5 separate regions of the Homo sapiens genome follow, and regions 2, 3, 4 and 5 are each linked to region 1. Evidence: fine-mapped expression QTL. A gene starts in region 1. Each other region holds a variant in brackets. All regions are shown on one strand. Distances are between the middles of the regions. Region 1 holds the start of EGLN2 (egl-9 family hypoxia inducible factor 2). Region 2 has its middle 7.2 kb from the start of CYP2A7. Region 3 overlaps ACTMAP (actin maturation protease). Region 4 holds the start of MIA (MIA SH3 domain containing). Region 5 overlaps SPTBN4 (spectrin beta, non-erythrocytic 4).

The links.
Region 2: its variant is fine-mapped to the expression of EGLN2 in whole blood (TOPMed, PIP above 0.99).
Region 3: its variant is fine-mapped to the expression of EGLN2 in whole blood (TOPMed, PIP above 0.99).
Region 4: its variant is fine-mapped to the expression of EGLN2 in whole blood (TOPMed, PIP above 0.99). The same link has a PIP of 0.9 or more in blood mononuclear cells.
Region 5: its variant is fine-mapped to the expression of EGLN2 in whole blood (TOPMed, PIP 0.99).

What each region holds. Positions count from the first base shown.
Region 1 is chr19:40,796,011-40,801,874 of GRCh38, forward strand. EGLN2 (egl-9 family hypoxia inducible factor 2) reads left to right here and starts at 3,181. Exons shown (of 6, transcript NM_080732.4): 1 at 3,181-3,252; 2 at 4,329-5,405. The coding sequence starts at 4,563. RAB4B (RAB4B, member RAS oncogene family) reads left to right here. Exons shown (of 8, transcript NM_016154.5): 8 at 560-932. MIA-RAB4B (MIA-RAB4B readthrough (NMD candidate)) reads left to right here. Exons shown (of 10, transcript NR_037775.1): 10 at 560-934. It overlaps RAB4B-EGLN2 (RAB4B-EGLN2 readthrough (NMD candidate)), which reads left to right. Exons shown (of 12, transcript NR_037791.1): 8 at 4,329-5,405. RefSeq lists silencers at 2,959-3,318, 3,469-3,518 and enhancers at 4,942-5,616, 5,795-5,864.
Region 2 is chr19:40,886,502-40,892,365 of GRCh38, forward strand. It overlaps the pseudogene CYP2G1P. Among named protein-coding and RNA genes, the nearest start is that of CYP2A7, 7.2 kb to the left of the region's middle. The variant C/G (reference allele first, on the strand shown) is at 3,004.
Region 3 is chr19:40,741,328-40,747,191 of GRCh38, forward strand. It overlaps ACTMAP (actin maturation protease), which reads right to left. Exons shown (of 6, transcript NM_198476.5): 2 at 3,803-3,871; 3 at 3,232-3,356; 4 at 2,740-2,869; 5 at 2,578-2,648; 6 at 1-1,443. The coding sequence ends at 1,106. Among named protein-coding and RNA genes, the nearest start is that of ACTMAP, 6.2 kb to the right of the region's middle. RefSeq lists enhancers at 2,715-3,681, 3,682-4,647. The variant T/G (reference allele first, on the strand shown) is at 2,214.
Region 4 is chr19:40,770,846-40,776,709 of GRCh38, forward strand. It overlaps MIA (MIA SH3 domain containing), which reads left to right and starts at 4,676. Exons shown (of 4, transcript NM_006533.4): 1 at 4,676-4,824; 2 at 4,907-5,040. The coding sequence starts at 4,698. MIA-RAB4B (MIA-RAB4B readthrough (NMD candidate)) reads left to right here and starts at 4,692. Exons shown (of 10, transcript NR_037775.1): 1 at 4,692-4,824; 2 at 4,907-5,040. The variant G/A (reference allele first, on the strand shown) is at 2,675.
Region 5 is chr19:40,500,718-40,506,188 of GRCh38, forward strand. SPTBN4 (spectrin beta, non-erythrocytic 4) reads left to right here. Exons shown (of 36, transcript NM_020971.3): 8 at 1,204-1,316; 9 at 1,411-1,598; 10 at 1,673-1,790; 11 at 2,058-2,216; 12 at 3,113-3,415. Among named protein-coding and RNA genes, the nearest start is that of SPTBN4, 36 kb to the left of the region's middle. The variant T/C (reference allele first, on the strand shown) is at 3,035.

The DNA of each region.
Region 1 (5,864 bases):
TATTTTTTTGAGACAGTCTCACTCTGTTGCCTAGGCTGGAGTGCAGTGGCACAATCTTGGCTCACTGCAATCTCCACCTCTCAGGCTCAAGCGATGTTCCCACCTCAGCCCCCCAGGTAGCTGGGACTACTGGTGCATGCCACTACACCTGGCTAATGTTTGTATGTTTTTGTAGAGACGGGGTTTCGTGGTGTTGCCTAAGCTGGTCTCAAACTCCTGGGCTCAAGCATTCCTCCTGCCTTGGCTTCCCACAGTGCTGGGATTACAGGCGTGAGCCACTGCGTCCATCCAGATTCATGATATTTAGATGTTGAAATGTGGCTTTACAGACTCAGACAGCTCTCTGAGGCAAACAAAGAGGGAGATGCAGGTACCCTCAGCACAAGCCCCAAATTACCTGCAGGGGAGAGGCGGAAAATCAGACAATGTAGAAACCGGGAGAAGAAAGGTATGGACAGACCGATGCAGATAGGAGGGGAAGGAAATACCTGGAAATGAGATAGAGACCGGCTGGACAGACCCCGGGGACCCTGCAGGTCACCACACCCTTCTCTTTCAGCTCACCTGTTCTCCAGGACCAGCCCTGCTGGGGCCCAGGCCCAGGCTCTGAGAGGCCGTGTCCTAACCTGCCCTGGCCCCGGAGAAGCTACGTTGCCACCTGTCCCCCTTCCCTGGCCTGGTGGGGCCTGGCTTTGGGGCAAGACTGAGCCACGGGGGAAGGGGGAATCCCGTACCTGCTGCTGCTTCCTCTGTCTTGGCTAACGTCTGTCCCCCTGAACCCCTAACCATACCCCAAGAGCTCCCAAAGCCTGAGACCAGGGTCATTTGTCCCCAACTCCCCATCTGGCCCTGCTGTTGCTAGTACCTGTTATTTATTACCTGGAGGCCTGTCCAGCACCCACCCTACCCCCATAAAGCATTGTTTACACCTGTGTCTTGGCCTCCATTATTGTGAGATGGCAGGGAGATGGAAGAGGTCCCTGATGGAAGAATCATGTGTCATGGTGTTTGGGGGCCTTGTTTCTGTTTTTTTGTTGTTGTTGTTGAGATGGAGTTTCCTTCTTGTTGCCCAGGCTGGAGTGCAGTGGCGTGATCTTGGCTCACCACAACCTCCACCTCCCGGGTTCAAGCTATTCTCCTGCCTCAGCCTCCCGAGTAGCTGGGATTACAGGCATGTGCCACCACACTTGGCTAATTTTGTATTTTTAGTAGAGATGGAGTTTCTCCATGTTGGTCAAGGTTGGTCTCGAACTCCCAACCTCAGGTGATTCGCCCGCGCTGGCCTCCCAAAGTGCTGGAATTACAGGTGTGAGCCACTGGGCCTGGCCTTGGGGGCCTTGTTTCCTGATTGGACGTGGTGTGGGGTATACCAAGCATGATGACTCAGGTGCCTGTTGCGGAGGGAGGGAATTTGTTACTGTGTGGACAGTTTGTGACAATCTGTGTTCTAAGCTCACGTGTGTAAACACGCTGATGTCCCTGTGTTTGTGACATGTGTACATGTTTCCAGTACCTGCATATGGGATGATGTCTATAGGATATAATGTGTGCTGGTTGTGTGTGATGCTGACAGCCGTAACTGCTCTGTGGCCTTGGTCATTGTATTGGTGAGGCTGGTATTGTTTGGGACATCAAGGCCAGGGGATGGGAATTTGGACCTATAGGTGGGCCTCCGGTGTGTGCATGTCTGATGCCTGAGAGTCAGAGGCAGTGACTCACTACTGCGTGTGTGCCTGTGCATGTGTACCCCGAGGTCTGTGTGTGTTTTGGTGTGAATTTGGCTCCTTTTAAACACCCATGTGTGGCCAGGCGTGGTGGCTCATGCCTGTAATCCCAGCACTTCGGGAGGCCAAGGCAGATGGATCACTTGAGCCCAGGAGTTGGAGACTATAGCCTGGGCAACACAGAGAGACCCTATCTACAAAAATAAAAAACAGAAAAAGTTAGCCAGGTGTCGTGGTACACACCTGAAGTCCCAGCTATTCCGGAGGCTGAGGTGTGAGGATCACTTTAGTTGGGAGGTTGGGCCTGCAGTGAACTATGATCATGCCACAGCACTTCAGCCTGGGCAAAAGGGTAAGACCCCATCTCAAAAACAAAACTAAACTAGAAACACCCTTGTGTGGCCATGAACCCTGTGTGTGCCCTGAGGACTGCGGGCTTTTGTGCAATCCTCACGCATGTGTGGATACCAGTATGCATGCCCTTGTGCTCACGCGAACCGCCCTACGCCCTCAGGTGGCCTGCAGGGGACTGGTGCAGCCCCGAGGACACTCCCAGTTGCTCGTCGCCCTCCCATCTCCACGTCGGCCTTCACCGACCCGGCGGGAGCCTTGAGTCCCAGCTCTCCAGAGCAATGGTGGAGCGGGCAGGGCATTCAAAATGACCTTATCTCCTTAGTCTCCTAAAGTGTTCCCAGCTGGCCATGCAAATGTCTTCTCTGTGTAGCGTTCCGTGGATTTTTTTTTGTTTCATTTTTTAATTTTGTGTAAAGATAAGGTCTCACTCCGTTGCCCAGACTTTCCCTGGTTCTTTATTCTGATTCCCACAATCGTCCCGAGGGGGCAGGCCGGAGCGGGTCTTGAAAATACACATTTGCACATCCCTTCTAGTCCGCGTTCCCTTTTCTCAAGGGCAACCCGCACTTTTTTGCCTCCGTTATAAAAGATACTTATGTAAATTACTGACGTGCGAATTTACATACATTTCTCAACTAACTGCGTAGCCATTTCTCCGTCTCTCACCTCCGTTCCTGGACGGCGAGAAGGAGGAGGAGCTGACCATGTAAATGAAGTCACGCGCACCGCGCTGCCGAACTCGGTGCCCCGCGCTGGGCGGGGGGCGGGTAGGCCTGTCCATGTAAATCACATCATTTGCGTGCCCCGCCCCGCCGACGCCACTTGATTCCAACATGCAAGAAACGCCCCCTCCCAGACCCGGCCCCTCACACTGCGTTCCCCCTCCCGCGCAAAGGGGGCGGGGCGGAGGATGCAAATGAACCTCGTGTAGGCCACGGACCGCTGTTTCCTTTCTCCTTGGTAGGGGGGTTGTCCCGAACTTCCTCGCCCCGCTCCGCCCCGCCCCGCGCGGCTCGGGCCTGCGCAGGCGCCGTCCCCTCCGCGGGGCGCGGTCACGTGCCCACCGGGCGAGGCGGGGCGGGGCGTCGCGCGCGGTGGGGGCGGGGTATGGCGCGCTGTGCGGCGCAGGGCGGCTGGCACAAACGGCGGCGCCGGGGCCGGAGGAAAAAGCTCGGTGAGGAGGTCGCGGGGCGAGAAGGGAGCGGGAGGAGACTAAGCCGGAGCCGGGGCGCCGGCGCGAACCGGGCGGGGTGTGGGGGCGCGCGCCGGGGCCTGCCGGGGCGACCCCGGGAAGGGGGATGTGGGTGCGGCGCGGGGGAGGGGACGCGCGCCGGTTACGTTGGGTGCCGGCCGTTGTGGGGGTTGGGGTGGGGGCGGGGAGCGCGCGCCGGGCGGAGGCCGAGTGGAGGGGGAGGGGAGGGGGTCCGAGCGGCCCTTAGGCCCTGCCCCTGTCGCCTACTGCGCTCAGAAGGGGCCTCAGGGCCTGCCCCGGGTTGGGGGCGTTGGGGTGCCCTGGATGGGGGCACCTTTATCTCTCGTCCTGTCTCCGGGTGCGTGCACCCTCCTCCGTCCTTTCCTCTGTCGCCGCGGACCCTCTCCCCGAGGGCCCCTCCCGTCGGTCAGTCTCGGGACCTCCCTTCCGTCTGGGCGTGTGTCCGCCCCCGGCCGGCTTCCTCCCGTCGGGCTCGGGTCGACCCCACCGTCCCGCTCCGCCCCGGGTCCTCCCTCCCAGCTTCCCTCCGGTCTATTTTTCTGTCTCTGGGCCCCTCGTTCTCTTTGTTTTTGGACTCCCCAGTTTCCTCTGTCTTTTGACCCCCCCGCCCCCACCCTGACTCTCCCTGGAACCCCCACGTTTCTCGTTGTCTTTCTGGAACGCCGAGGCAGGTCCCTCCTATTTTCCAAACCCCCTCCTTTCCCACTCCTCCACACCACCCTTTTCTACTCCAGCCCTCCTTCTTCTGTCTTTGGTTACCGCGTCCCACAACCTGCACCACAGTCCTCTGTCTTAGGGTCATCTACCCAGCCCCTGGCCTCCAGCCTCTCCCTATCACTGCCTCTTATCTGTCAGCGGACTCCCGCACCTCCAGATTCTCAGGGTCCTCTCCCCGACTTGGCCTCAGGTTTTGGGGGGCCTCTATAGTCAAGTCTGTCCTGGTCGTCTTCCCCACTCCTGCCCATACCATCCCGGCTTTCCCCTGCCTGCCTGTCTCTAGTTTCTCTCACATCCCTTTTTTTTTTTCCTTTCTCTAGCCACCCTGAAGGGTCCCTTCCCAAGCCCTTAGGGACCGCAGAGGACTTGGGGACCAGCAAGCAACCCCCAGGGCACGAGAAGAGCTCTTGCTGTCTGCCCTGCCTCACCCTGCCCCACGCCAGGCCCGGTGGCCCCCAGCTGCATCAAGTGGAGGCGGAGGAGGAGGCGGAGGAGGGTGGCACCATGGGCCCGGGCGGTGCCCTCCATGCCCGGGGGATGAAGACACTGCTGCCATGGACAGCCCGTGCCAGCCGCAGCCCCTAAGTCAGGCTCTCCCTCAGTTACCAGGGTCTTCGTCAGAGCCCTTGGAGCCTGAGCCTGGCCGGGCCAGGATGGGAGTGGAGAGTTACCTGCCCTGTCCCCTGCTCCCCTCCTACCACTGTCCAGGAGTGCCTAGTGAGGCCTCGGCAGGGAGTGGGACCCCCAGAGCCACAGCCACCTCTACCACTGCCAGCCCTCTTCGGGACGGTTTTGGCGGGCAGGATGGTGGTGAGCTGCGGCCGCTGCAGAGTGAAGGCGCTGCAGCGCTGGTCACCAAGGGGTGCCAGCGATTGGCAGCCCAGGGCGCACGGCCTGAGGCCCCCAAACGGAAATGGGCCGAGGATGGTGGGGATGCCCCTTCACCCAGCAAACGGCCCTGGGCCAGGCAAGAGAACCAGGAGGCAGAGCGGGAGGGTGGCATGAGCTGCAGCTGCAGCAGTGGCAGTGGTGAGGCCAGTGCTGGGCTGATGGAGGAGGCGCTGCCCTCTGCGCCCGAGCGCCTGGCCCTGGACTATATCGTGCCCTGCATGCGGTACTACGGCATCTGCGTCAAGGACAGCTTCCTGGGGGCAGCACTGGGCGGTCGCGTGCTGGCCGAGGTGGAGGCCCTCAAACGGGGTGGGCGCCTGCGAGACGGGCAGCTAGTGAGCCAGAGGGCGATCCCGCCGCGCAGCATCCGTGGGGACCAGATTGCCTGGGTGGAAGGCCATGAACCAGGCTGTCGAAGCATTGGTGCCCTCATGGCCCATGTGGACGCCGTCATCCGCCACTGCGCAGGGCGGCTGGGCAGCTATGTCATCAACGGGCGCACCAAGGTAAGGCTAGGTGGGGGCCTCTTTGGAGGGGCTTTGCAGCACCCTGGTTTGCAGCATTCAGTGCTCTGAGCACAGTGGGTTTGGAGACAGGCTTCTGGGAGGTCACAGAAGGTTTAGGCAGTTCAGTGGAGTGGGTATGCTTACTTGTGGGGACTTGGGGGGGTCTTTATCCTCCCTACGGGCCTTAATGTGTGCACCTGATAAGCTAGGAGTTTGTCCTGGAGCCACAGTGGTTCTTTTTTTTTTTTTTTTTTTTTTCTTTTCTTTTTTTATTGATCATTCTTGGGTGTTTCTCGCAGAGGGGGATTTGGCAGGGTCACAGGACAATAGTGGAGGGAAGGTCAGCAGATAAACAAGTGAACAGAGGTCTCTGGTTTTCCTAGGCAGAGGACCCTGCGGCCTTCTGCGTGTTTGTGTCCCTGGGTACTTGAGATTAGGGAGTGGTGATGACTCTTAACG
Region 2 (5,864 bases), 90 kb after region 1:
AGTTCCCCCAAAGCCGGTCATAAGTGACTTGCTTCTGCATTTCACAGCTAATGAGTGTAGAGTCTTAGTATGGTCTTGTGTGATGGTAAATTTTTTTTTTTTTGAGATGGAGTTTCGCTCTTTTGCTCTTGTTGCCCAGGCTCGAGTGCAATGGTGCGATCTTGGCTCACTGCAACCTCTGCCTCCTGGGTTCAAGTGATTCTCCAGCCTCAGCCTCCCGAGTAGCTGGGATTATAGCCACCAGACGCAGCTCATTTTTGTATTTTTAGTAGACACGGGGTTCACCATGTTTGTCAGGCTGGTTTCAAACTCCTGACCTCAGGTGATCTGCCCACTTCGGCCTCCCAAAGTGCTGGGATTACAGGCATGAGCTACCATGCCTGGCTGTGAATGTAAGTTTCATGCTGTTAATCACCACTTTGGACTGCTAGGCCCCACCTGTTTTTCTTTATGAAACATTAGAAAAACTGCTTGTACTCTCTTGTGTTTCTTCAAATACTTCCATGTAAACATGTAACAAAGGATTTCAAAATGTTAGAAAAAAAAGTCTTTTAATAGGAGGGAGACTTGACCTTCTGTAGTGTTTGCACTTTTTGGAAGCTTAACCAAAGACCTAGTTGGCCAGTATACCCCTCATGCCATTGGCAATGAAGCAGTGGGGGAGTTGGGGTACTAGTTGTTGTGGCCAGAGAGTGAAATGTCTGTGTTTCACATTTCAGATTGATGACAAGGATTTGGGGGGTGGGGCTGTGGGAATGTTGGCTGAAAATAGAGTGAAGAAGGTCAAAGAAGAGAAGACAGTCAAGATTCTTTTTTTCTGAGTGTTTGGATAGCTCACATCCATGGCCATGAAGTTCCTCCCTACCAGTAAAATGGCAGGACTTAGAGTTCAGAGATGGGAAAGAAGTTGGATAGATGATAGGGATGAACAGCTTTTTTTTTTTTTTTCTTTTGAGGTGGAGTCTTGCTCTGTTGCCCAGGCTGGAATGCAATGGTGCAATCTTTTTTTTTTTTTTTTTTTGAGATGGAGTCTTGCTCTGTTGCCCAAGCTGGAGTGGAGTGCTACAATCTTGGCTCACTGCAAGCTCCACCTCCCGGGTTCATGCCATTCTCCTGCCTCAGCCTCTGAAGTAGCTGGGACTACAGGCGCCCACCACTACGCCCGGCTAATTTTTTGTATTTTTAGTAGGGACTCTGTCTCAAAAACAAGACAAACAAAAACAAACAAACATGATGCAACTATATGCTGCCTATAAGAAACTCATTTTACCTGTAAAGATGCATATAGACTGAAAGTACATAGATGGAAAAAGATATTCCATGTAGACAAAAACCAACAGCAAGCAGTAGTAGCTATAACTTATACCAGTTGAAACAGATTTTAAGGCCGGGCGGGAACGGTGGTTCATGCCTGTAATCCCAGCACTTTGGGAGGCTGAGGTGGGTGGATCATAAGGTCAGGAGATCGAGACCATCCTGGCCAACACGGTGAAACCCTGTCTCTACTAAAAATACAAAAATTAGCCGGGCGTGCACCTGTAGTCCCAGCTACTGGGGAGGCTGTGGCAGGAGAACCACTCGAACCTGGGAGGCAGAGGTTGCAGTGAGCAGAGATCGTGCCACTGCATTCCAGCCTAGGCGACAGAGCGAGACTCCGTCTCAGGAAAAAAAAAAAAAAACCATTTTAAATCAAAAACATTAAAAATAAAAACAAAACAAAGTATGAACCCGGGGGCGGGGGTGGAGGTTGCAGTGAGCCAAGATCACACCAGTGCACTCTAGCCTGGGCAACAGAGCAAGACTCCATCTCAAAAAAAAAAAATATTCTGGCAGCATCACATTTCTTAGTCCCAGAAGGAGGGCCATGTGACTAGGCAAAAAATGACCCAGGTTCCATTTCATGCACACACCCTCTGGAGCACAAATCTCCTTCTCTCTATCCCACTTAGACCTGGGTTTCTCTCTTGTCCCTGTATCTCTTTGTTTCGTTGCCTTTCTCTTTGTTCATCTCCACCTCCAACTTTTTGTCTAGTTGGATTTCTCTGTGAGCCATGGGTGCGTCCACTCTTTGGGTTCCTCTTGATTCTCTTCTCAGCCGTATGTCACTTTCTCAGTCTCTGTCTCACTGAAACTTTTTTCCTGTCTTTTATTCTTTCTGCTTCTATCTCCCTCTCTCTGTTTCTTTGAATTGTCTTTTGTCTCTGTGTCCTCCTTGACATTTATCTTTGACTCACTGAATCTCTCTCTCTCTCATCTCAATTTTGTTTTGTTTGCTTTGTTTTGTTTTTGAGACAGTCTCGCTCTTGTTGCCCAGGCTGGAGTGCAGTGGTGCGATCTTGGCTCACTGCAACCTCCACCTCCCGGGTTCAAGCAGTTCTCCTGCCTCAGCCTCCTGAGTAGCTGGGATTACAGGCGCCCGCCACCATGACTGGCTAATTGTGTGTGTGTGTGTGTGTGTGTGTGTGTGTGTGTGCATGTATTTTTAGTAGAGACAGGGTTTCACCATGTTGGCCAGGCTGATCTCGAACTCTTGACCTCAGGTGATCCACCTGCTTTGGCCTCCCAAAGTGCTGGGATTACAGGTGTGAGTCACTGTGCCTGTCCTCATCTCTATTTTGATCTCACTCTGGTTCTGTTTCTATGCACCTCGATTTTGTCTCAATCTTGATTTCTGTCTCCATCACATAATACCTGGCATAATCTGCCATGCTCTGAATTTCTCTGCCTCAAGTCCTCTGCAATTATTTTTCCTCTTTAGCTTGCTTCTACTTTTTAGTTCAAGTTCCTCCACTCCTGGCTTCCTATCTGGAGGTGGAATGGTGAAGGGAGCTGTTCTAAGAGTATTTGCTCTCTCCCTTCCCGTCTGAGTAGGAAAACCAGACTCACCATCACCACACACATGCCACCACCCTGAATGGGTGTTAAATGCTGGGGTGTGAGGATCAGAATGGGATGGGGAGGTGAAATCTAAGAGAGTCAAAGGAGATGGGCTGAGCTGAGTCT[C/G]TACTCCAAGAAAGACATTCTAGCAGCAGATCCAAGAGACAGAACGTGGCACTGTGTGTGAGTCACTCAGTTTTCGTAGAATTTCCACTGCTTCTGGACACAGGATGCCTCAGCTCAGCCAGCCAAACCCCATTCCCAAAACTTACAGATACCTTGAGGGATTCAGTTTCCAAGTCTGAGAATACAGTCGTGTGAAAAGGACATTGAATTTTGATAAATAGTATATGTGGGTAGGATATAATATCCAGGAAGTTCATTTCAGGCCAATAAGGCTTTGAAAATATTTGGTGCGGAAAAGGTAGTGAATCACTTTTTAGATTATTAAGGAACACAATCACTAATTGCGCTGGAGGAGATGTTCTCCTCCAGAGACTGGGGTTCAGAGGTGATCCCTACACCTTAGAGTTTTAAAACACACACACGCACACACACCAACACACAATACAGCAAAGTTCTTTTTTTCTTTTTTAAATTTGATACAGCAAAGTTCTGATACACCAACACAAGTAATCTTTGATTATTGTTATTTAACATCTTGAGTAGAAAACAAGAACTTTTTGAACAAAACCTGTTCAATTGATTTATTTCTCTTGTTTTCTAAATCTTCAGCTTACTTTCCTTATTAACATTCTAGTGTTCCATTACACAGTAGGGTAGCTGTAGTTAACGATAATACATTGCATATTTCAAAATAGTTAGAAGAGAGGATTTTGAATGTTCTTACCACAAAGAAATGATAAATGTCTCAGTAATGGATATAATAATTACCCGAATTTGATTGTTATACATCGCATACATGTATAAAAACATCACACTGTACCCCACAAATATGTACAATTATTATGTCAATTAAAAAAATTTAATAACTGTTTAATTAGGGTTATACTTAATTAAGTAACGAACAAAGAGTTTTCCTTGTTGTCTATCAAGACTTTCTAAAACAACATGGTCTGCCAGCTGTGGTGGCTCACGCCTGTAATTCCAGCACTTTGGGAGGCTAACGGGGGGGCGGGTGGTGGATCACTTGAGGCCAGGAGTTCGAGGCCAGCATGGCCAACATGGTGAAACCACATCTCTACAAAAATACAAAAATTAGCTGGACATGGTGGTGTGCGCCTGTAGTTCTAGCTACTTGGGAGGCTGAGGCATGAGAATCGCTTGAACCCTGGAGGCAGAAGTTGAAATGAGATTATACCACTACACTCCAGCCTGGGTGACAGAGTGAGAATCTGTCTCAAAAAATAAAACAATAAAAAAAAATAAAACAACATGGTTTCCCTGTTTGATAGATGGGGAAACAAGTCCCAGAGGTTAAGTGACTTTCCCAGTGAAGAAAAGACAGAGCTGCCACTTGTACCCAGATTGTCTGGATCCTAAAATCAATAGCCTAAAAAGATAATAATTTGCCTCTTACACCCCACCAAGAAATTCTGTTCAATTCTGTTGAGCTGAGAGGGAAGAACAGGGAGACTGGAAATATGAAGAAAGGGGAATGGCCCCAGAGGATTTCCCTGTGTGAATTCAATTTACCTTTATTCAGGTGGGAGATTATAGGTTATATAACCACCCCCAATATAAAGCAATCTCTTCCCCGATGACACTCAAACCCGGAAAACTTGAATCCCAGGGTGTTCAGATTTTGGTATAAGCTGATCTCCCAGGACCTACTTAGGCAGGATCTGGTGCCCAGGACAGAACCTGTTGACCTGGCACCATGGAGCTGGGAGGGGCTGTCACCATCTTTCTGGCACTCCGCTTGTCTTGCCTGCTCATCCTCATTGCCTGGAAACGAATGGATAAGGCAGGAAAGCTGCCCCCAGGTCCTACACCAATTCTTTTCCTGGGGCACCTGCTGCAAGTTCGAACTGATGCTACGTTTCAGTCTTTCATGAAGGTGAGTCTGTCTGTCTCCTTTAATAGGGCTAAAAGCAACTAATCCTATAGCCAGATTCACATAGAAACTTATGACTTCTAAAAGATAGACTCTCAGAAACACAGACTTTGCAAATCTTAGAATTCTGAAATTCCAGAATCCTAAAATGTTGGAAACACACATTCTCAGTGCATTGAAATAAGATTTTCATGATCTCAGGACTTTGGAATCACAGTACATTATATTTTTAAACACAGGATTCTTTGACTCAGCTTGTCTTAGCACTTTGAGACTTGGTATCATGAAGTCTTAAGATTCTAGAAATTTAACATTTCAGAGAGAGAAGTATGAATCTTGGAATTTATCGAATCCAGGTCCCTTATTTTGGAGATGCAGACAGTAACTCTTGTGGGAAGGGATGAGCTTTTGCCGAGAATGACAGAAGCCAAGACTTCCGTGCCTCTTTCCCAGTATTCCTTCCAAGCCCAGATTTACCTTGGTTCCTTAGTACCATGTTTATATCCCTCTAAAATCGCCATCCTCTAAAATCCTCAACTGGCCTATGCTTGGTACTCCAGTCAGCCCCTCCTCTTGTGTTTTCCTTCACTCCAAGCTCAGGGAGAAATACAGCCCTGTGTTCACTGTGTACATGGGTCCCGGCCAGTGGTGGTTTTATGTGGACACGAAGCAGTGAAGGAAGCCTTGATAGACCAAGCGGATGAGTTCAGTGGCCGTGGAGAACTGGCTTCAATAAAGCAAAACTTCCAAGGTCATGGTAGGTAGCAACAACAACAAAAACAATAAAACCGGAAATGACTGCAATGCACTCCCTATATGCCAGGTTCTTTGGTAAGTAGTCCACATGACTTACTGTATTGACTCCCTTAGGAGAGCTGTTAACATTATACTAATGTTGTCAATGAAAAAGCTAAGATAGGCCAGGCATGGTGGCTCATGCCTGTAATCCCAGCACTTTGGGAGGTTGAGG
Region 3 (5,864 bases), 55 kb before region 1:
AGTTACTTGGGGGGCTGAGGCAGGAGAATCACTTGAACCTGGGAAGTGGAGGCTGGAGTGAGCTGAGATCACGCCACCGCACTCCAGCCTGGACGACAGAACGAGACTCCATCTAAAAAAAAAAAAAGCAACAGTGCTCTGTAGTTTCCCTAAATGAGATGGGCTCAGTTAGGGACAGAGAAGTGATCCAGACAGGCCTGTTCCTCCTTCAGAGTGGAGGGGTCAGGTATTCATGAAGCTAGTAATCACACACACTCACTAGAAGTTTGTATAAGTGGACAGGAAAGTTTGTGGTCAGCACCATAATGTTCAGGGAGCCAGGAGACAGCCTGGCTGAGATACTGACTACCTAGCTTGAATCCTGACCTTGCCATGTGCTAGTCATGTGACCTCAGGCCAGTGATTCCACTTCTCCAGGCCTCAGTCTTGCCATCTGTCAAATCGGGTCCATCTAGCACCCCCCTTACAGGGTTGCCAGATCTGCTAACACAGGTAGAGGGGCTGGCACAGGTAACTGCTCCCAGATGGGCTTTAAAACTGTGAAGACATGAGGTGGGGGAGGGGTGTCTTGACTGGGGCTGCAGGACTCTTCCCTGAGGTAGTGATACCTGAGCCCCAATGGAAAAGTTAAGGAGTGATCCGCAGCAGAGGGCTGGGGGTGGGACTCAATGATCCGGGGATTTGAACAACACTTCAGGGATCTAAAAGGCCAGTATGACTAGTAGGTGGCAAGCATGAGGAAGACCTTGGGCTAAGGAGGGGTGAGCTGAGGCTGACGCAGTTCAGTGTCCCTGTCCTGTGAGAAGCAGAGGGCCCAGGCAGGAGGTTCCTCAAATGTCTAGTGAGATGACAGAGGCGGCCCCTAGTGAGAAACAGACGATGCGACATTCAGATGGAATAGGCAGGCCGCAGGGTCCGGGCTGTTGTCAATCTCTCCCTAGAGGGACCAGCTGGTGCTCAATACTGCAGGGGGTGGCCCTGATGAAGGAGGACTGGAGACCCCTGAGACCTAGCTTCAATCTTGTCGCCATCACACAGTGGGAGAAGTGTAGGCACACTTCAAATGGTTACCGAGCTAGGCTGCAGCCTGAGACCGCAGCCGCAGCTAATGGCTGCAGTCCTGTGGTGTGAGGAGCAGGGCCTGGCCACAGAGGCCAGCCCGTACCCCACCCACGGGCACCACGTACACCCGGCCGTCAGTGGCCCGTGAGGGCGAGAAGTCCGTCAGCTGCAGGTTGCTCTCCCGGACCTGGTCGTAGTCCCACAGCTGATAGTGCCAACTCTTGCCCTGCTTGGACAGCAGGTAGACAGCTCCCGGGGAGCCCTCCTCTGGCAGGGATGGTGGTTGGCAGGGCGTGCCCAGCACTGGGTGGAACAGGCCCGGCAGCTCAGGGTCCTCAGTGTAGCCGAGACTGGGCACAGCCCGAACACCCAGCAGGACCCCTGGGGGAGAGGAGAAGGTGGTGAGTGGCAGTGACTGAGCCAGGACCAGGTGCTGGGGCTCACTAAGTTCCGCCCTCTCCCGGCCCTCCAGGGTGGGTGCAGCTGCCATTCCTAGGTTACGGTGACGTTAGTGGTGGCCAGTGGGTTGGGATTTGGACCCACCGTGGCACCCGGCTCCAAAGCTGTAGGTGTTTTAAGTCTTGCCTCATCTGGCCTGAGCACAGGGGAGGTGGGGAGGCAGCATGAGATGAAGCAAATGCCGTCACCCGGTCATCCTCAGCTCTTTAGGGAAGAGGCTCCAAGAGGAGCTGTCAAGACCACAAAGCCATGAAGAAGCTGAGCGGAGCCTCCCCCGGACCTCCTGACGCGGACCAACCTGGCCTTCTTTCTTTCAGGCAGGGGGAATGATGAAAACGGTGCTGGTAATACTTACAGAGACATGTCACACGCCAAGCCCTGTTCTATTTTTTTTTTTTTTTTGAGATGGAGTCTTGCTCTGTCACCCAGGTTGGAGTGCAGTGGCACGATCTCAGCTCACTGCAACCTCCGCCTCCCAGGTCCAAGCAATTTTCCTGCTTCAGCCTCCCAAGTAGCTAGGATTTCAGGCATACACCACCACGCCTGGCTAATTTTTGTATTTTTAGTAGAGACAGGGTATCACCATGTTGGCCAGGCTGGTCTCAAACTCCTGACCTCAAGCGATCCACCCACCTTGGCCTCCCGAAGTGCTGGGATTACAGGCGTGAGCCACCGCGCCTGGCCAAGCCTTG[T/G]TCTAAGAGTGCTGAGTGCTCTGCCTACAAGGCAGCCTTATGAGGTGGGTACTGTTACCCCCAATTTCCAGATGGGGAAAGGAGCTGTCCAGAGAGGTGATGATACCTGCCCAGAGTCACAGAGCCTAGAAGAGGCTGTGCCAGGCCTGGAGCCCAGACGGTCTGATCCTGAAATCTGTGCTCTGAGCTTCTGTTTGTAGAAGCTCCAACTGGCAGACACCTGGGGCCCAGCCTGCCCGGTGCTAATGCTAAGTGCCCAGCCTGGCTGGGGAGGCACCAGCACAAGGGGTGAGAATGTCAGGAGGATTAATGGAGGCCGGGGAGACCCAGGTTGAGGGGTGCAGACAAAGGAGGGGGAACCCACCTGCACTCACCGCCCAGTGTGCCTTGTGGCCCTTCCTCTGACACGGCTCATGGTTGAAGTCCTCGTCGTAGCTGGTGCTGGCATTAAGGTAAAAACGATGGTGTGGCCCTGGGACCCACCCTTTGCCACCCCTGCCCTCCTCTCTCCCAGGCCCTGGGATACGGGATGAGCAGGGGATGTCCAGTGACCAGGTGCTGCAGGACGAGGTCTCTGTTGGGACCGCCCAGGCCACCAGAGAGCAGCTTGGCCTGGCAGCCCAGCACCTCCTGGGCCAGCCTGCCCATATCGGCCACTGCAGGGTGAGAGCACACAGAGGGGGCTTGCTGCATGTGCCCAGCACCGTGCTGAGGGCTCACAGTGGGCGATGCTTCCAACCCTCACCATGACCTTCCACCCCTTGGTACAAATGCAGAAAATGAGGCACAAAGAGCGTGAGTGGCTTGTCCATGGCCCCAGCGAAGAGGTGGCAGAGCTGGGTTTGCAACCTAGGCAGCCAGCTCAAGTCCATCTTGTAACCTCTCTGCTCTACTGGGCAGTGGGAAGGGCCCAAAGAATGGAATGAGACACCCTGACACACGGCTGCCAGCATCCCACCCAGCCTCTCTGGTCCCAGCCTCATGAAGAGATGATGGAGCATGCAGTCACCCAGCTCACCTGAGAACATCTCTCCCTGGGCCGTGTAGCCTCTTTCCGTGGCCACCCGTATGAGTCTCTCCAGGGGGACGCCACTGGGGGGCGACAGGAGAGTACCTGCCATCCACAAGGCCACCAGCCCGCATCTGGGGACAGAGAGGCCCAGCCTGTCAATCCTATGTCACAGCCCCCTTACCTGGAAGCTGGAGTTGGGGAACAGGTTTGCTGCCCTGGAGGAGTCCCCCTCCCCTCTCCCAGGCCAGCGAGGGAGACCTGACTCCCCTTCAGGGGAGAGCCCAGGGCTGGAGGGCTGGGGGTGGAAGGCGGGGGAGAGGTCACCTGAGCTTCCTGGGAGGAGGAACCAAGGTGGAGTTAGAGAGATGGACCAGGCTCATTCGTTCATTCCTCGCATGTCCCAACTATGTTTACTATGCAGGCACTCAGAAGCCTGAGTGGAAAGTTCCCCCTTTCCTTCCCTCCTCCTCCCAGCAGGGACAATCCACTCCTCTTCTCCAGATCAGTCCTTAAGAAGCCCAGCAAGGGCAGAGTAAAGGCAGCAGATGGGCTGGGGTTCCCGCATCAGGGCACATACTGAGGGCCTTCTTGGATGAGGGACGGCAGGTCTGCACAGAAGAGGATCCACCGCAGGTCACCTCGGAACCTGAAGCAGAGCCGTGCTCAGTCACCAGGGAGCCAGCTCTGAAGCACCCCCTACCCTGAGGTCTGGCTGGGAGTGGTCGTATCCAGGGATGATGAAGGGAATATGGGCCTGGCTGTCCTAAGGCTGAAGGCGGCTCCTGGTTCAGTCACTGACTTCCCCTCCCCAAGCTTCAGTTTCCTCATCTGGTTTGTGGGAATGGTCCTTCTGCCTGCCTGCTCCCTGCTCGCTCTCTCAGTTATTGAAGGGTGAGGAGCAAAGGGTGGCACTTTGCAACCAGGTTTATCTGAGGAAATTTCTCAAAGTGGTATCTCTATCTCCAACTCTTTTTCTTGCTCTGTTGCCCAGGATGGAATGCAATGATGCAATCAAAGCTCACTGCAGCCTCGACCTCCCAGGGTCAAGTTATTCCTCCTGCCTCGGCTTCCTGAGTAGCTGGGAGTATAGGCATGCACCACCATGTCCAGCTAGTTCTTTTTATTTTATTTTATTTTGAGACAGAGTTTTGCTCGTTTTGCCCATACTGGAGTGCAACAGCGCGATCTCAGCTCACTGCAACCCCTACCTCCCGGGTTCAAGTGGGTCTCCTGCCTCAGCCTCCCGAGTAGCTGGGATTACAGGCATGCGCCACCACGCCCAGCTAATTTTGTATTTTTAGTAGAAACGGGGTTTCACCATGTTGGCCAGGCTGGTCTCGAATTCCTGACCTCAGGTTATCCACCCACCTTGGCCTCCCAAAGTGCTGGGGATTATAGGCGTGAGCCACCGTGCCCGACTCTTTTTATTTTTAGTAGAGATGAGATCATGCTATATGTTGCCCAGGCTCCAAACTCTGTGATTTGTTTTTCGCTTCAAGTCTGTTTCCTGGGCTGTTCAACAATGAAAATCCCTTAACTGAACTTTGAATAAAACCAGGTAACAACATGCTTAAGGCCTAAAACATCACCTTGATAGTGAATCTTTGTACCCTGGGGGAGGCCACTCAGATAGTCTGGCCCTGAGGGATTCATTCCTTTTTGTTTGTTTGTTTGTTTGTTTTTTGGGACAGAGTTTCCCTCTTGTTGCTCCGGCTGGAGTGCAATGGTGCGATCTTGGCTCACCACAACCTCCGCCTCCTGGGTTCAAGCGATTCTCCTGCCTCAGCCTCCTGAGTAGCTGGGATTATAGGCATGCGCCACCATGCCTGGCTAAGTTTTTGTTTTTGTTTTTGTTTTTTTTTGAGACAGCTGGAGTGCAGTGGCCCGATCTTGGCTCACTGCAAGCTCTGCCTCCCGGGTTCACGCCATTCTCCTGCCTCAGCCTCCCGAATAGCTGGGACTGCAGGCTCCCGCCACCACACCTGGCTAATTTTTTGTATTTTTAGTAGCAACAGGGTTTCACCCTGTTAGCCAGGATGGTCTCGATCTCCTGACTTCGTGATTTGCCCGCCTCAGCCTACCAAAGTGCTGGGATCACAGGCGTGAGCCACTGCACCCGGCCCTTTTTTGTATTTTTAGTAGATACGGGGTTTCTCCATGTTGGTCAGGCTGGTCTCGAACTGCTGACCTCAGGTGATCCACCCGCCTCAGCCTCTGAAAAGTGCTAGGATTACAGGCGTGAGCCACCATGCCCGGCCTCCTTTTTTTTGTTGAGATGCAGTCTTGCTCTGTCGCCCGGGCTGGAGTACAGTGGTGCGATCTTGGCTCACTGCCACCTCCACCTCCTGGGTTCAAGCAATTCTCCTGCTTCAGCCTCCCGAGTAGCTAGAATTACAGGTGTGTGCCACCATTTCCGGCTAATTTTTATATTTTTGGTAGAGACAGGGTTTTGCCATGTTGGCCAGGCTAGTCTCAAACTCCTGGCCTCAGGTGATCTGCCTGCCTTGGCCTCCCAAAGTGCTGGGATTATAGGCATGAGCCACCGTGCCCGGCCCATGCTTATTATTCCTATTCCAAGGCTGGTAAGAAGGCAAGGTTCGGTTTGGGTGTTGGGGGGGTGCGGACTCAGAGCTCCTGGT
Region 4 (5,864 bases), 25 kb before region 1:
TCCTGTGGCTGCAATATGGAGGAAGAGTACAAAGGGTGGGTACAAAGACTGGCCTCTGTCTTGCTGTTGGGAAATCCAGCTGCCACGTTGTGAGCTTGTGTCTGGAATTGGTTCCTTCTGGTGGGTTCTTGGCGTCGCTGACTTCAAGAATGAAGCCATGCACCCTCGCAGTGAGTGTCACAGTTCTTAAAGATGGTGTGCCTGGAGTTTGTTCCTTCAGATGTTCAGATGTATCTGGAATTTCTTCCTTCTGGTGGGTTTGTAGTCTATGCTGAGTTCAGGAGTGAAGCCACAGACCTTCGCGGTGAGTGTTACAGCTCATAAAGATAATGTGGACCTATAGAATGTGCAACAGCAAAATTTATTGCAAAGAGCAAAAGAACAAGGCTTCCACAGCATGGAAGGCGCCCTGAGCCAGTTGCAGCTGCTGGCTAGGGTGGCCTGCTTTTATTTCCTTATTTGGTCCCACCCACATCCTGCTGATTGATCCATTTTACAGATAGCTGATTGGTCCATTTTACAGAGTGCTGATTGGTCTGTTTTACAGAGTCTGATTGGTCCGTTTTTACAGAGAGCTGATTGGTGCGTTTACAAATCTTTACCTAGACACAGAGCGCTGATTGGCGTGCTTACAATCCTTTAGCTAGACACAGAGCGCTGATTGGTGCATTTACAATCCTTTAGCTAGACAGAAAAGTTCTCCAAGTCCCCTACCTGATTAGCTAGACACAGAGCACTGATTGGTGTGTTTACAAACCTTTAGCTAGACACAGAGTGCTGATTGGTGCATTTACAATCCTTTAGGTAGACAGAAAAGTTCTCCAAGTCCTCACCGGCCCAGAGGCCCAGCCATCTTCACCTCTCAAGCTGTCTGTAGAGGTCCACGTGTCAAGAAAACTGAGGACAGAGGCCCTCAGTCCAGTTCCCACAAGCAACTGCATCTCCCCAACAGCTGCCTGAATGAGTTTGGAAGCAGTCCTCCCACCATTCAGCCTTCAGATGAAACTGCACCCCTGGCTGACAGGCTGATTGCAGCCTTATAGCAGACCTTAAGCCTGAGACATTCGACCCACAGAAAAGGTGATAATTTTGGTCTTTTTTTTTCTAAACAGGTTCTTGCTCTAGAGTGCAGTGGCACGATCATGGCTCACTGCGGCCTCTACATCCTGGGTTCAAGTGGTCCTCCCACCTCAACCTCCTGAGTGGCTGGGACTACAGGTTTGTACCACCATGCACAGCTAGTTTTTCTCTTTTTTTCTTCTTTTTGTAGGTACAAGGGTCTCCCTGTGTTACTTAGGCTGGTCTCAAATTCTTAGGCTCTAGCAATCCTCCTGTCTCAGCCTCCCAAAGTGTTGGGATTACAGGCATGAGCCACTGCACTGGGGCAATGTTGGTCTTAGGCTAATTATGCAGCAGGAGATACATGCACTGTGCTTTGGGAATTGAAGTCACTTCTATTTCTTTGTGGCTTCATCAGTAATATGGGGCAGGGGGCACGGTTCCCACAGCTGATTCTTGAGTGTTCTTTCTGAGTATCCTTAATACTTCACACACTATCATATATCTGAACTTTGTTCATTGATTATCTCCCCTTTAATTTTCATTCCTTGATGAATCTCCAGGGTCTGGATTAAGTCCTAGGATACTTTATGTACTCATGAAATCTTCAATGAATGAAGAAATGATTTTTTTTTTTTTTGAGACAGAGTCTCACTCTGTCACCCAGGCTGGAGTGCAGTGGCATGATCTTGGCTCATTGCAACCTCCACCTCCCAGGTTCAAGCAATTCTTCTGCCTCAGCCTCCTGAGTAGCTGGGACTACAGGCATGCGCCACCATGCCTGGCTCATTTTTGTATTTTTCAGTAGTGACAGGGTTTCACCATATTGGCCAGGCTGGTCTTGAACTCCTGACCTCAGGTGATCCACCCACCTCAGCCTCCCAAAGTGCTGGGATTACAGGTGTGAGCCACTGCATCCGGCGGATTTTTTTTTTTTTTTTTTTGAGACAGGGTCTCACTCTCTCGTTCAGGCTGGAGTGCAGTGGCGTGATCTTGGCTCACTGCAGCCTCCACCTCCCAGTTTCAAGTGATTCTGGTTCGGCCTCCCAAGTAGCTGGGACTACAGGTGTGTGCCACCATGCCTGTCTAATTTTTGTATTTTCACCACGTTGGCCAGGCTGGTCTCAAAACTCCTGACCTCAAGTGATCCGCCTGCCTCAGCCTCCCAAAGTGCTGGGATTACAAGAGTGAGCCACCATGTCTGGCCTGAATGAAGAAATAATTTTTTAAAGAGTGTTTTAAAGTGGGGCCGGGTGCGGTGGCTCACACCTGTAATCCCCACACTTTTGGAGGCCAAGGTGGGTGGGTCACTTGAGGTCAGGAGTTTGACACCAGCCTGACCAACATGGTGAAACCCCATCTCTACTAAAAATACAAAATTAGCTGGGCATGGTGGCAGATGCCTGTAATCCCCGCTACTTGGGAGGCTGAGGCAGGAGAATCACTTGAACCCGGGAGGGGGAGGTCACAGTGAGCTAAGATCGTGCCATTGCACTCCAGCTTGGGTGACAAGAGCGAAACAATGTCTCAAAAAAAAAAAAAAAAAAAAAGAAATTGCATTTCAAAGCCAGGTGCAGTGGCTCACACTTATAGTCACAGCTACTTAGGAGGCTGC[G/A]GTGGGAGAATAGCTTGAGCCCAGTTGTTCAAGGCTGAGTGAGCTGTGATTGTGGCACTGCACTCTAGTCTGGGTGACAGAGTGAGACCCTGCCTGTAAAAAAAAAAAAATCTTTCAGGCCAGACGCGGTGACTCACTCCTATAATCCCAGCACTTTGGAACGCCGAGGCGGGTGGATCACCTGAGGTGGGGAGTTCGAGACCAGCCTGGCCAACATGGACAAACCCTGTCTCTACTAAAAATACAAAAATAGCCGGGCATGGTGGCACATGCCTGTAATCCCAGCTACTCGGGAGGCTGAGGCAGGAGAATTGCTTGAACTCGGGAGGTGGAGGTTGCAGTGAGCTGAGATTGTACCACTGCAATATGAGACTCCATCTCAAAGAAAAAAAAGAAAAAAAAAAAAAGATAGCATAGCAATGGCTGTGGGCCTGGATACAAGTCTTAGCCTCTCCACTTCTCCACTTCCTGGCTCTGTAAGCCTTAGACAAGTTCCTTAACTCCACACTTCCATTTCCATGTAACAAGGGGTTATAGGCCAGGCATTGGTGGCTCATGCCTGTAATCCCAGTGCTTTGGGAGGCCAAGGCGGGAGGATACTTGGGGACAAGAGTTCAAGACCAGCCCAGGCAGCACAGTAAGACATTGGCTCTAGAAAAATAAAAATAAAAGAAATCATCCAAGAATGGTGACTTGCCTACTATTCTACTCGAGAGGCTGAGAGGGGAGGATTTCTTGAGCCCAGGAGTTTGAGGATGCAGTGAGCTATGATCACATCACTGTACTTCAGCCTGAGCAACAGCAAGATCCTGTCTCAAAAAATTAAATTAGGCTGGGCTTGGTGGCTCATGCCTGTAATCCCAGCACTTTGGAAGGCCATGGTGGGCAGATTGCTTGAGCCCAGGAGTTTGAGACGAGGCTGGGCAACATGACGAAACCCCGGCTCTACCAAAAAATACAAAAAATTAACTGGGCATAATGGTACATGTCTGTGGTCCCAGCTACTCGGTAGGCTGAGGTGGGAGGAATGCTTGAGCCCAGGAAATAGGGGCTACAGTGAACCAGGATCATGCCAGTGCACTCCAACCTGGGCAACAGAGCAAGACTCTACCTCAAAATAATTATTTAAAAAAATGGATTAATTGGGCATAGGTGGCTTGTGCCTGTAGTCCCAGTTACTCAGGAGGCTGAGGTGGGAGGATTGCCTGAGTCTAGGAGGTTGAGGCTGCAGTGAGCCGGGATGGCACCATTGCACTCCACCTGGGCAACAGGGTGAGACCCTGTCTCAAAAAAGAAAAAAAAGGGAGGGGTTATAATCACTCCTCCTGACATGATACAGAGTATCCATTTGAGTTCATAACATAAATATGTACTTGGTGAATGCTCTGTAACTATTGGCTTTTTTATTGTTCCCATTTTACATATAAGGAAGCTGAGGCTTTGTGAGGAGAAATAGCTTAGCCCAGGTCATCCAGTGGGAAGCGTCTGGTGCAGAGGAATAGTGATCATGGTGGGACTTTGCCTAGCCTAAGGTTCAGCATACAATATTCAGTCAGTACTCAAGGGCTGGGCTGTTTCTGGTAATCAAAGGGCTGCCTTGTTCTCCTGCCCCACAGCACAGGAAATTCCAAGGTGGTTTTCTTTACAGGCTCCTCCGCTTCTGTGGCCAGAGGGGACAGCGGAGGAGCCCAGGTACCTAAGCCAACTCAAGAGAAGATGGAATTGAATATTTCAACCACCTTATCTAGGCCTCTGTGATTGTTGAGGAGGGGGCTGTCACTGGGAAAGTTGTGAGCTGCTTTGGACCTTATCTGGGAATTTCCTTGGGCTTACAGCCTTTACCCTATCCTTGAAATGGTTCTGGTTTCATAGCAACTTCTAGGTGGTGTGGGCGAAGTTTGGGACTGGTTTAGGGCGGGGACAAGACCAAGAACACAAGTTTCCTTGTACTACGGGAGAGAGGGAGGGGAGGAAATTGGAGACCCCAGCACCCCCTTGCTCACTCTCTTGCTCACAGTCCACGATGGCCCGGTCCCTGGTGTGCCTTGGTGTCATCATCTTGCTGTCTGCCTTCTCCGGACCTGGTGTCAGGGGTGGTCCTATGCCCAAGCTGGCTGACCGGAAGCTGTGTGCGGACCAGGAGTGCAGCCGTAAGAATGGGGAGGGGAGAATTGGGGGCTTGGGCGTTAGCCTGTGTGGAGGGTGCTGCATTCCCTTCTATTCCTTCCCTAGACCCTATCTCCATGGCTGTGGCCCTTCAGGACTACATGGCCCCCGACTGCCGATTCCTGACCATTCACCGGGGCCAAGTGGTGTATGTCTTCTCCAAGCTGAAGGGCCGTGGGCGGCTCTTCTGGGGAGGCAGCGTGAGTCTTGGGAGAGTGAAAGAGGGAAGGGTACAGAGCTGGGGTAGACTCATTATCCCCATGAAGGGAAGATTTGAGGGGGGTGAACTGAAATAGACATTGTGGGGGGATATTGTTACTTACTTTATTTTATTTGCTTATTATTTTTTAATTTTTTCCGAGACAGAGTCTTGCTCTGTCACCCAGGCTGGAGTGCAATGGCACGATCTCGGCTCACTGTAACCTCCACCTCTTGGGTTTAAGCGATTCTCCTGCCTCAGCCTCCCAAGTACCTGGGATTACAGGCATGCACCACCACACCTGGCTAATTTTTGTATTTTTAGTAGAGACAGGGTTTTACCATATTGGCCAGGCTGGTCTTGAACTCCTGACCTCATGATCTGCCCGCCTTGGCCTCCCGGAGTGCTGGGATTACAGGTGTGAGCCACTGCCCCCCAGCCTATTTTCACTTTATTTACCAATTTTAGGACCTGATATGGTCCCACGTTCTGTTCTAGACACCAAGATACAACAACAAATGATCCTTTTTATTCTAATGGAGGGAAATGAACAAAAAGCAAGGCATAAAAAATAGCAGCAGCCGGGCACAGTAGCTCACACCTGTAATCCCAAGTAAGGCCAAGTTGGGAGGATAGCTTGAGCCCAGGAGTTCGAGACCAGCCTGGGCAACATAGCAAGACCCCCATCTCTATAAAAAAAAATTTAAAATTAACTGGGCTTCATGGCATGTGTCTGTGGTCCCGGCTACTCGGGAGGCTGAGGTGGGAGGATTGCTTGATCCCAGAAGTTGAGGCTGCAGTGAGCCGTGATCATGCTACTGCACC
Region 5 (5,471 bases), 300 kb before region 1:
GTGCCTGTAATCTCAGCTACTTGGGAGGCTGAGGCATGAGAATTGCTTGAACCTGGGAGGCAGAGGTTGTGGTGGGCCAAGATCACGCCATTGCACTCCAGCCTGGGCAATAGCTTGAGACTGTCTCAAAAAAAAAGAAAGAAAAAGAAAAGAAAGGAAAGGAAAGGAAAGGAAAAGAAAGGAAACAGGCATAGTGTTTGTCCTCATGAAGCTCAAGCTCTAGATAATGACATAATCACATAAGTGAATATGTAATTACAAATTGTGATACATTCTGGGAAGGACATCATAAGATGCTAAGAGGAGAATAACATGAGGATTATCAACTATAGACAGAGTGAACATGGAGGCTTGTCTAAGGAAATTTGAGTTGAGCCAGGCATGGTGGTTCACACCTTTAGTTCTGACTACTCAGGAGGCTGAGGTGGGAGGATTGCTTGAACCTAGGAGCTCGAGGCTGCAGTGAGCTATGATTGCACCACTGCACAATCAGCCTGGACAAGAGAGCCAGACTCCATCTCTTGAAAAAAAAAAAAGTAAAAAGTTGAGCTCTGAAGAATAAGTGGGAATTAGGAACACAGAAGAGGAACAGTGCTCCAGACAGTGAGAACAGCACATGCAAAGGCCCTGAGGTGGAAGGTAGAAAGGTGTGTTCAAGAAACAAATATAGGCCAGGTGCGGTGGCTCACATCTGTAATCCCAGCACTTTGGGAGGCCGAGGTGGGCGGATCACCTGAGGTCAGCAGTTCGAGACCAGCCTGACCAACATGGTGAAGCCCTGTCTCTACTGAAAATATAAAATTAGCCAGGCATGGTGGTGCATGCCCATAACCCCAGCTACTTGGGAGGCTGAGACAGAAGAATCACTTGAACCTGGGAGGTAGAGGTTGCAGTGAGTTGAGATCGTGCCATTGCACTCCAGCCTGGGCAACAAGAGCAAAATTCCATCTTAAAAAAAAAAAGAAAAGAAAAAGAAAAGTATAGCTTATTTCTCTGCGGTGGTTTATATGTGTCAGGCACTATTTAATTCCAGGAGGTAGATTTCTATTTGACGGATACAAAACCTGAGGAACAGAGAGGTTAATTATCTTGCCCAAGGTCACACAGCTAGTGAGAGTGGCTTCTCCATCCCTCCATCCAATACCTTCAAGCACTCTGTCAAAGTGCCCACTGTCTTGTTTCCCCACTCCCTCTTGCTTCCAGATGTGAACATGGAGGCTCCAGATGAGAAGTCCATCATCACCTACGTGGTCTCTTTCTACCACTATTTCTCCAAGATGAAGGCTCTGGCTGTGGAGGGGAAGCGTATCGGGAAGGTATAAGGAGCCAAGGAGTGGGTGAGTGGGAAGCTGGAAGCTGGTGGCAGGCACGGGTGGGATGAGGCTGACCCCCCTTCCTCTGCTGTGTCAGGTCTTGGACCAGGTATTGGAGGTGGGGAAGATCATAGAACGCTACGAGGAGCTGGCGGCTGAGCTGCTGGCCTGGATCCACCGCACCGTGGGCCTCATCAGCAATCAGAAATTTGCCAACTCCTTAAGTGGGGTGCAGCAGCAACTCCAGGCTTTCACGGCCTATTGCACGCTGGAGAAGCCTGTCAAGTGAGGCCCAGCTCTGGAGGGAGGGTGGGCAGGGGTGGCATGACGGCAGGGCTCCTGAGCTCATGCCCCTTCAGGTTCCAGGAGAAGGGGAACCTAGAGGTGCTGCTCTTCAGCATCCAGAGCAAACTGCGTGCCTGCAACCGTCGCCTCTTTGTGCCTCGGGAGGGCTGTGGCATCTGGGATATTGACAAGGTGAGGCCGGGGATGCAGGGGAGAGGCGGGGTTGCACTGTGGAGTTGTATAGGTTGCACACTGCTCAAGGGAATCATTCACATTGTAGACATGATGGATTAGATATTCATTCTGACAGTTTTTCAGTAGTAAAGTGTCATAAGGAAGCAATATTTTTTCCAATTTGCATGAAGTTGCCATAATGCTATGAGTGACCTCAGACTAAGTCAAGACCATTAAACTGTGGGGAGCTGTCAGAGTCTGAGTGCCTCCTCCCATCTCCTGCAGGCATGGGGTGAGCTGGAGAAGGCTGAGCATGAGCGGGAGGCTGCCCTACGGGCTGAGCTGATTCGGCAGGAGAAGCTGGAACTACTGGCACAGAGGTTTGACCACAAGGTGGCTATGAGGGAGAGCTGGCTGAATGAGAACCAGCGTCTGGTCTCCCAGGTACAAGGTGTAGGGCTTGGCTCCAGGGTAAAGGGACGGAGGGCGGGGCTGATGGTCCTGGGACCAGAGAGGGAGACTTGATCTTCTAGGCAACAGGGAAGAGTTAGATTAGTCTCCTGGTGATAAATGAGGATGGGGATGGGAGACTTGGCCTTCCAAGTGATTGTTGGGTGAGGGGAATGGGCCTGATCTCCAGGGTAATGGGAGAGTGAGGCTGGTCTCCAGGGTAACTAGAGAGGGCAGAATTCATCTTTTCAGGAATGGGGGAGTGTTTTAAGTGACAAGGGAGGTTGTATCTTGTGTCTAGGGTAACTCAGAAGGATAGAATTGGTTTCCTAAGTAACAGAGTCAGGTAAACCTGGTCCCTAATCTCCAGGACAGGGGAAGCATGGGCCTCCTTCCTGGGTAACAAGTTTAAGGTTAGAGATGTAACAGGAGGGTGGGACTTGTTTCCAGGGTAACTGGAGAGAGTGGGGCTGGTCTCTGGGGAAACGGGAAGGTGGGGTTGGTCTCTAGGGCAACAGGGGAGGGTGGGTCTGGTCTCCAGGGTAACTGGGGAAGATTGGGCTGGTCTCCAGGACAACAGGGGAGGGTGGAGCTGGTCTCCAGGATAACTGTGGAAGATGGGCTGGTCTCCAGGGCAACAGGGGATGGGGGGTTGGTCTTTAGGGTAACTGGGGAGGGTGGGGCTGGTCTCCAAGGTAACAATGGAGGGTGGGGCTGGTCTCCAGGTTACCTGGGTAACAGGGGAGGATGAGGCTGGTCTCCAGGATAACTAGGGAGGGCAGGGCCAGTCTCCAAGGTAATGGAGTGGGGAG[T/C]CCCCAGGGTCACACAGGGTCAAGGTAACAGGTGGACTGCTGAGGCAGCATGGGTGAGTGTCTGGCTCACTGCCCCAGGACAACTTTGGGTATGAGCTGCCCGCAGTGGAGGCAGCCATGAAGAAACACGAAGCGATCGAGGCAGACATTGCGGCCTACGAGGAGCGGGTGCAGGGTGTGGCGGAGCTGGCCCAGGCATTGGCAGCCGAAGGCTACTACGATATCCGGCGGGTGGCAGCCCAGCGTGACAGCGTCCTGCGCCAGTGGGCCCTGCTAACTGGGCTTGTGGGTGCCCGGCGGACACGACTTGAGCAGAACCTTGCCCTGCAGAAGGTCTTCCAGGAGATGGTGTACATGGTGGACTGGATGGAGGAGATGCAGGTGCCGGCGGGGGGGCGGGGATGCGGGTGGAGTGCCAGGAGGGAGGGGAGGATGCAGACGCTGAAAGAGTTGTCAGACAGCTGGAGATGGAGAGGGAAGGGCAGAGATAGAAGAAGATAGAGAGAAAGCCAGGGAGACAAAAAGAGAGAACAAGAGAGAGAGGGAGAGAAAGATACAGAGATGGACAAGAGAGGCAGACAAAGAAACACAGAATGAGAAAGAGACAGAGACAAATAGAGAGAAATAGAAACATGCTGGACACGGTGGCTCACACCTGTAATACCAGCACTTTGGGAGGCCAAGGAGGGCAGATCACTTGAGGTCAGCAGTTTCAGACCAGCCTGGCCAACATGGTGAAACCCCATCTCTACTAAAAATACAAAACAATTAGCCGGGCGTAGTGGCGGGCGCCTGTAGTCCCAGCTACTTGGGAGGCTGAGGCAGGAGAATGGCGTGAACCCGGGAGGCGGAGCTTGCAGGGAGCCGAGATCCCGCCACTGCACTCCAGCCTGGGCGACAGAGCGAGACTCCGTCTCAAAAAAAAAAACAAAAAAAACAAAAAACAATTAGCTGGGCGTGGTGGCGTGTGCCTGTAGTCCTAGCTATTTGGGAGGCTGAGGCTCAAGAATTGCTTGAATCCAGGAGGCAGAGGCTGCAGTAAGCCAAGGTGGTGCCACTGCACTCCATCCAGCCTGAGTGACAGAGTTTGATTCTGTTTCAAAAAAAAAGAGAGAAATGAAAAAAGACATAGAGATATAGAAACAGAGTAAACCAGGGATGCAGACAGAGAGATAGTGACAGTTTGAGAGAGAGGAAATCAGAGAGACAGAGAGAGGAGAAGGCAGACACAAAGGTGACATGGAAATCTACATGACTACAGAGAAAGATACAGGAAGATGGAATCAATTTAAGAGAGAGAGAGAGAGACCTACCAGATCTAGAGAGAGATGAGACAAGAAAGATAGAAGCCAGCTGGGCATGGTGGCTCTCACCTGCGGTACCAGCACTTTGGGAGGCCGAGGTAGGCAGATTGCTTGAGCCCCAGAGTTTGAGACCAGCCTGATCAACATAGTGAGATCCTGTCTGTACAAAAAAAAAAAAAAAAAAAATTAGCTAGGCGTGGTGGTGTGCGCTTGTAGTCCCAGCTACTCTGAAGTGGGAGGATCGCTTGAGCCCAGGAGGTTGAGGCTGTGTGAGCCATGATTGCACCACTACACTTCAACCTGGATGACAGAGTGAGACCCTGTCTCAAAAAAAAAAAAAAAAAAAAAAGAAGAAGCCGGGCACGGTGGCTCACACCTGTAATCCCAGCACTTTGGGAGGCTGAGGCAGGCAGATCATCTGAGGTCAGGAGTTCAAGACCAGCCTGGCCAACATGGCGAAACCCCATCTCTACTAAAAAATACAAAAATTAGCCGGGCGAAGTACATCTAATCGGGAGGCAGGAGAATCACTTGAACCTGGGAGGTGGAGTTTGCAGTGAGCTGAGATCGCGCCACTGCACTCCAGCCTGGGTGACAGAGGCAGACTCTGTCTCAAAAAAAGAAGAAGAAAAAAGAATGAAAGGGAGGAAGGAAGGAAGGAAGGAAGGAAGGAAGGAAGGAAGGAAGGAAGGAAGGAAGAAAGAAAGGTGAACAGGAGACACAGACAGGAAGGTGAACAGGAGATGGAGAGAAAGAGAAAAGGGTAGAAATGTAGAAAGAGAGGCAGAGAAAGATGGAGACAAAGATGTATAGATAAGAAAGACATGGAGGCAGAGAGTGAGCCACTGTGACAGAGACAGAGCCCAGAAATGTGGAGTCCACGAGAGATGGAAACATTCAGAGAGAGACTGGTAGAGAGAGAGGGAGACAGAGACAGAACACCATGGCTAGCTGTGAGAGCTGACAGCAGCTGGGGCTCAGCTTTTTTCTTTCTGATGAGGAAACCGAGGTCCAGGCCACAGAGCTGGTAAGAGAGTCTTGAGGCTGGTCCATATCTCTCCAAGAGGGTCAGAGTCGGGAGTGATGGTGCAGAGTAGCAGGGGCTGGCATAGGCAATGGGGGAGAGGTGAGTG